Linked DNA regions of Homo sapiens. The protein of the gene in region 1 interacts with the protein of each later gene in a pairwise test. Each region holds a gene or a part of one and is shown on either strand. Other genes may lie near its edges.

Region 1 (3,013 bases):
ATGTGTGTGTGTATATATATATTTATCCATATATACACACACGCCAATCAAGGGGAAAACTGCATCCTGGCAATTTTACAGTCTGAAGTTTTGTTGGTATATCTACCATTTCACATCCTTTTCATCTTGCTTTTCTGTACAAAAGATATTTTTTGCCTTCTTCATTCCTGATGAGATTTTTCTGCGATAACTTTACATTCGTACTGCAAAAATTAAAAGGTTAAAAGGTTAACAGATTAAGACTTCTTTTGAATAGCAACTTCCAAATAAACTGAAAAGCTCTAAAAATGAACATTTTATTACTATGTGCCCATTTATTCCTCAAATAATCCAAGAGTTACATAATTACTATGATTAAATGACAAATGTGACAGGGAAAAAAATAATTCACATTCTGGAAGTGAAAAAGCCACAGCCAAAAGCAAGAGAAAGATGAGATTTCTGCATTACAAGCAAGTAGTGGCAGTATATGATTTAGAATTTAGATCAATCTTTTAATGTCGAAAGGAAGCAAAGCAGGTTTCTTTGAGTATTCAATAAGGCAAATTAGCAAAGAATAGTTCATGAACTTAAGGATAGGGCTGTTGTGGTGAACTCAGATCACTGTATTTTCAAATTGCTATATGATATAAAGGAAAAAATCTGTTACATTAACAAAAGCTTCCAGTCAAAACAACATTTTTAAAGTACAGCTATAAAAATGTACACCCACAATTCAAAATAAAGGAAACCAACAGGGTAAGATAATTGGTTGGCTATTTTACCAAAAATACAGCAAAGTAAGTCACTCAATTCTCCTAACCTGGCTAAAAAGGTAAAAGTGACAGCACTGATTCATAAAACTGCTGTGGCCTCTGAATGTCACTCCCTAGCCTTTTCCTTTTCCTTCATCACTAAAATGATCAAACATCTTGATTTGTTAGAGGTGGTCCTAATGTATACCTATTGTAGCAACACACTTATTAGTAGTGACCTTTTTAACTTTTAAAACTGTCCTTTTCTGATATAGTGGGAGACCTGTAGATTAGTTTTTTAAAAACCACTAATATCCCCCATATGGTCAATAAATCATATTGCCCTATCCATAACACATTTTGAGTTTTTCTCTCCAGTGGCTCCTCAACTTTTAAAACACCTGTGATTAAATTCTTCCAAATGATTTATTTCAATGGAAGTGCAAAAAAGCAATCAAAGAATGTTGTCTTCACAAATTGCTTTCCCTTAAAGGACTGCCTTTTAGAGAAAACTTGTCATTTGTTCCACATCTTATTCAGAAAAGTGAGCATCAGCTTACCATTGCCAGTTGTCGACCAATGTTTCCCATTGTTATGCCTCCAGCAAAAAATATACATGGTAACCAAGAACGAACATAGAGGAAATCTGGAGATGTATATCTAGAATAACAGACATGTCTTTAATACCCACAGAGGAACTGCAATGACACTTAAGATAATTACAATGAAAATAAACTACTCTGTAGATTAAACTGGCTAACCTCATTTCATAATCTCAATTCTGAAAGCGGTTATCATTTATTTATCTAGCAAACAAGCACCAAAAATTGAAGGATTAATACTTACTGGTAAACACCATTATATACTAGCAGTTGAGTGACCACAGTTGCCAAGAAGGCAATTCCTACTCCAAGGCCAAAACCACTTCTAGATCTATCAAAAGTCCACCACAGTCCAATGGATAGTGCAGCCAGTGTGAGAGACAACTGTATGTTGTTATCGAAATCCACTTTCTGAGATCAGTGTTAAGAAGTCATCTTAAAAGTTGTAACCAAATAATATCATCTGTTCATTTTTCTAAATAAGAGATGCCTCTGTTGAGAAGGGAATTAATTGCTTCTACTCAAGTACATTCAGTCTCTTAGTACAATGTATGAAGCTAGGTGGGATTAAAACTGTCTCCAGTATTTACCCAATACCAGATACACAAAAGACATTAATCAATAGATCCTACCAACTGTAACCCCTCCAAAACAAAAAACAAAACAAAACAAAAAGAACAGTCTACATACATTCCCAATTATAAGGCTTTACCCATTATTTAAGAAATGCTTTCTTTGCTAAAAATGTAACTGGAAGCCTCAGAACACAAGTATCACTAAAGGAACACACTTTTGCAAAAAAGGAAACCAATATTACTTCTCCAACAGGTTTAGAATTACTTGAGAATCGTACAGGAACTTGAAAATAGAAGAGTTGACAGCTATTTAACAGGGTACCACATTCTCTCTATGATTTACTGACAGACACATTTTATAATAATGCAGTTCAGAAACAAGAGTACCAAGGACACAGTATCCCTTTCTATTATGTCAACTGTTCTAGTTTTAATTTGTTGAGGATAAAGCCTTGAAGTGAACATTATCTTACAACCTGCCAAGCTATTTTGGTGCCTGAGACTTTCTGGTATAGGACAGTTTGCTCAAATGATATTTTATTTTCATCACCTACTTAAGCATCTATTCACAAATGTATGGCCCTTTTCTACACCAAAATCTCTGGGTAAAATTAAGCTTTACAAATTCAGTTTTCTCATCTCTTTGCTAGAGGATTACACTAAAGGAATTAATTTCAAGTGTCATTAAAAGGGCATTATCTATGTCCCAAAGGCCACATCTTGGCTCTATAACCAGCTACTGGGGAAGGCGGGGGAGGTTTGGGAGAACACGTATCACCAAACTGACCATGCTGCACGTATAGAGAAATCCAAAAAAGAAATTGCAACGAAGCCATTTCCCACTTCCTTTAACACTCTTTTTCACCATTTCCCCACCCCTACCAAGCAAGTATCCTAAACACCCAGCTTGCTTATTTCTCAGAATCTCAGGACTATTGTGGGCAACTCCCTCAAGGTCCTTCCTTGTTAAGGCTTGATTTAAAAAGAAACCTACAGTTCATATGGGTATGCTTCTGGAAAAGCTTTTCTTATTGTTATGCTGTCATTATACTTAAAGTTCAAAGAAAAGGTTTAGAGCTCTGATTTCCCTATGAAATAAACA
Region 2 (3,500 bases), on another chromosome or scaffold:
TTATTACCTGTTTTATAAATTATACTATATATAGGCCCTAGTAAGCACAGCAAAACAAGAAATAGAAAAAGTATAGGGATGGGAAAAGAAGAAATGAAACTTTCTTGTTTTGCCAATGATAGGATTGTCCACAGAAGAAATCTAAGTAATTTTCCATTATAACTGGTAAGTAAGAAAATGTATGAGGTTCTAAATACATTAGCATCAGTCAGTCAATCAATTGGGTCTGATATACTAGAAACAAATATATATATATTTTAAAAGACACCATTTATGATATTCACAAAACTAGAAAATACTTATACATCTAAAGGACATGTAAGATCTTTATGAAAGAAATTACAAACCTTTATAGAAAGGTATTAAAAAAGGCCTAAGTAAAAGAAAAGCTATATCATATTTATAGATGGGAAGATTCAATATTATAAAGATAGTCTCTCAATTTATATATAAATGTAATGCACATTTAATAAAACTTCCAGACTTATAATTTTTTTTGTAGACTTGAAAGGTGATACTGAAACTCAAGTGAAAGAGTAAAAGGCTAAGAATAGCTAACATGATTTTTTTTTTTTTTGAGACAGAGTCTCGCTCTGTCACCCAGGTTGGAGTGCAGTGGTGTGATCTTGGCTCACTGCAAGCTCTGCCTCCCGGGTTCACGCCATTCTCCTGCCTCAGCCTCTCAAGTAGCTGGGACTACAGGCGCCCGCCACCACGCCCAGCTAATTTTTTGTATTTTTAGGAGAGACGGGGTTTCACCGTGTTAGCCAGGATGGTTTCGATCTCCTGACCTCGTGATCGGCCAGCCTTGACCTCCCAAAGTGCTGGGATTACAGGCGTGAGCCACTGTGCCCGGCCCATGATTTTCAAGAACAAAGTAGGGGGACTTAACTTTCAGATAACAAAACTTATAAAATTGTAATTAAGAAAGTGTGGAACTGGTACAAGGGTAGCCACATAGACCCGTAGAAGAGAAGAGAGATCCAGACACAAGCCCTGCATTTATGAGAGAGATGTCATTACAAATACCTGGAGAAAAATTCACTCAACGTGGCTTGGAATCTTCTATTTGTATGGAAAAGATAAAATTAGTTCATGCCATACATAAAAATAAGTTCTACATTGATTGGAGCTCTCCATGTGAAAATCAAACATTTAAAACTTTTCAAAGAAAATACAGGGTAATATCTTTGTAACTTTGTAGACAGTAAATTTTTTTTTTTTTTTTGAGACAGGGTGTTGCTCTGTCGCCCAGGCTGGAGTGCAGTGGCATGATTTTGGCTCACTGCAACCTCTGCCTCCTGGGTTCAAGTGATTCTCATGCCTCAGCCTCCTGAGTAGCTGGGATTACAGGTGCACATCACCATGCCCAGCTAATTTTTTTGTATTTTTTAGTAGAGACGGGGTTTTGCCATGTTGGACAGGCTTGTAGATAGTAAAAGATTTCTTAAAGAAACCCCTAAAAAACATAAACCACAAAGGAAAAATATTGGCAAATTTGACTAAATTAACATAAGCAATCTATCAGACATTATTATCAAAGTGTAAAGACCAGCTCCAAACTGTGAATAGACTGTTGCAACATATATAAAACAATAACTTTAGAAATTAATTTTCAAAACCCACCCAAACCACAATCCCATAGAAAAACAGGCAAAGGACCCAATGTTTCCAGAAGAGGACACATGAATGGCCAACGCACACGTGGAAATGTGGTAGGCCTCCCATGAAATCAAATTTAAAACTACTGCGATCTGCTTCACTGTTTTCATTTGGAAAAAATTAAAAAGTCTGACAATTCCAAATATAGATGAAGGCACAGAGAAACAGGGATCTTCAGACACTGCTAGGGAACGTGTGAAGTGAACAATGACCTTGGAGACCTCTTAAAGATGTGTGACTCCCACGACCCAGCAGTCCTGCTTCAATTGCATATGCCCTCATGTGGGCAGAGGGACACACACAAGTCTGTTCACAGAAGCGAGACGTAAAATCCACATGAATCTGACAACAGGAGAATGGATAAATGCAAGCAAACTGCACAGCAGTTCAGATACATGAGGTAGCTATTTTCTTTACATGCCTATTTCTCAAAAAAAAAAAAAAAAAGCAAGCTGTTAGGTGATGTGGACAGTATAATACTGTTCGTACAAAATTAAAAGACGTAAATCCCGCAGTCTATCTTGTTTATGAATATATACGTATATAATAGTTGAAAAGGGTCGGTGGAAATGCTGAACACCAAATTCCCAGGGATGCTCCCTTTGGCAAGTGGTGGAGGGTAATGAGATTGGGAATAGGAATACAGGGGGTTTCAATGCTACTGTTGATCTTCTCTTAGGGAAAAGCCAAACACAACTTGTGTGTTTGTTCTGGTGACCTAGAGCAGAGGAATCATGCTTACTTTGGCTTGTGTGTCAGGAGTTTTGGAGTTTGGACTTGGTGTGCCTTGTCAGCTTGGGTATGCAGGAGCCATGTTCCCTGATCCCCAGGTACTTCCTCCACTTGCACAGGTCCTGGGGTCAGGTCAGGGACATCCATCTCCTAGCCTGCTGGCATCCGTGACTGTTGTGATCCTTGGTTTACCCCAAGGGACAGGGACGGGCAAGGACTTTTTCAGACTCTAGATTCCTGAGATTGTAGGCCTGGTTGCCTTTCAGGGGGAAAGGGGCACATTTGTTTTTTTTATTTTTCCCTCCTGCTTAAGTTCCAAGAGCACAGCATAGACCTTGCTTTTGGACATCTGTGTACCCCATTTAAGGGACTCGTTCGAGTGTCCGTCAATGCACAGATTGGAGGCAGAAGCTGAGGGAGCTGTGAGGGGCCTCAACACAGTCTCTATGAAGTGGAAAACTTCTGGGACCCCAGTGGCTTCCATCTTGTCCTGGTTGAGCTTCCTACATCATGGCTGGGAGACCTGTGGAAGTGCTTGGGTTGTGTCCAAGCCCATTGTCCCCATGGCCATTGGCTCTGGGCTCTGCTGTGAGTCCGATGGTGGCAGGGGGAGCAGATGAACTTGGGGCAGCAAGGATGGTCAAAAGAGGCCAGTTCCTGCTGGCATAGCACTCTCTTCTCTGTGCCTGACAAGCCATACTCACTTCAACTGTGAGGGCGTTTTCTCTTGCCTGTTTGTCACCTACATTTTTTGAAACTTGTCTAGTGGCCTTCCTTGAGGAGGGAGCTGCCGTCCCTGGCTGCATTGAGGGGTCTGCTTGGTGGCCTGGCCTCCTGGGATGGCAGGCTGTCCCCAGACTGACTCCACCTATGAGGCAGAGTGAGTGGAGGGAGACACAGTTTCCCACAAACTCTGGGAAACCTCTGGCAAGTCTCTGACCTCAGCCTCTTCATGTGTAAAATGGGATCTGTGTCTTACAATTCCTTCCAGTTCTAAATGGGATGTAGAGTATTGTGCTTATCTCAAACTGGGGCCTTTGGGCTACAGCTGGCCCTTTGACATGTATTGTTTGGTTTGCACATTTAAAAAAATGGAATGAGTTGCT

What was found. Proteins that work in one complex are often made in the same cells at the same time.
Region 2: the proteins of INSIG2 (region 1) and SLC10A1 interact in a two-hybrid assay, tested with the Homo sapiens proteins (one large-scale study listed by BioGRID).

The regions. Positions count from the first base shown.
Region 1 is NC_000002.12:118,105,471-118,108,483, reverse strand, and holds part of INSIG2 (insulin-induced gene 2 protein), read right to left. Parts: intron 1,748-3,013; coding exon 1,581-1,747; intron 1,395-1,580; coding exon 1,295-1,394; intron 204-1,294; coding exon 162-203; coding exon of another isoform or gene 122-161; 3' UTR 1-121. UniProt on the Homo sapiens protein: Oxysterol-binding protein that mediates feedback control of cholesterol synthesis by controlling both endoplasmic reticulum to Golgi transport of SCAP and degradation of HMGCR.
Region 2 is NC_000014.9:69,790,742-69,794,241, forward strand, and holds part of SLC10A1 (hepatic sodium/bile acid cotransporter), read right to left. Parts: intron 1-3,500. UniProt on the Homo sapiens protein: As a major transporter of conjugated bile salts from plasma into the hepatocyte, it plays a key role in the enterohepatic circulation of bile salts necessary for the solubilization and absorption of dietary fat and fat-soluble vitamins.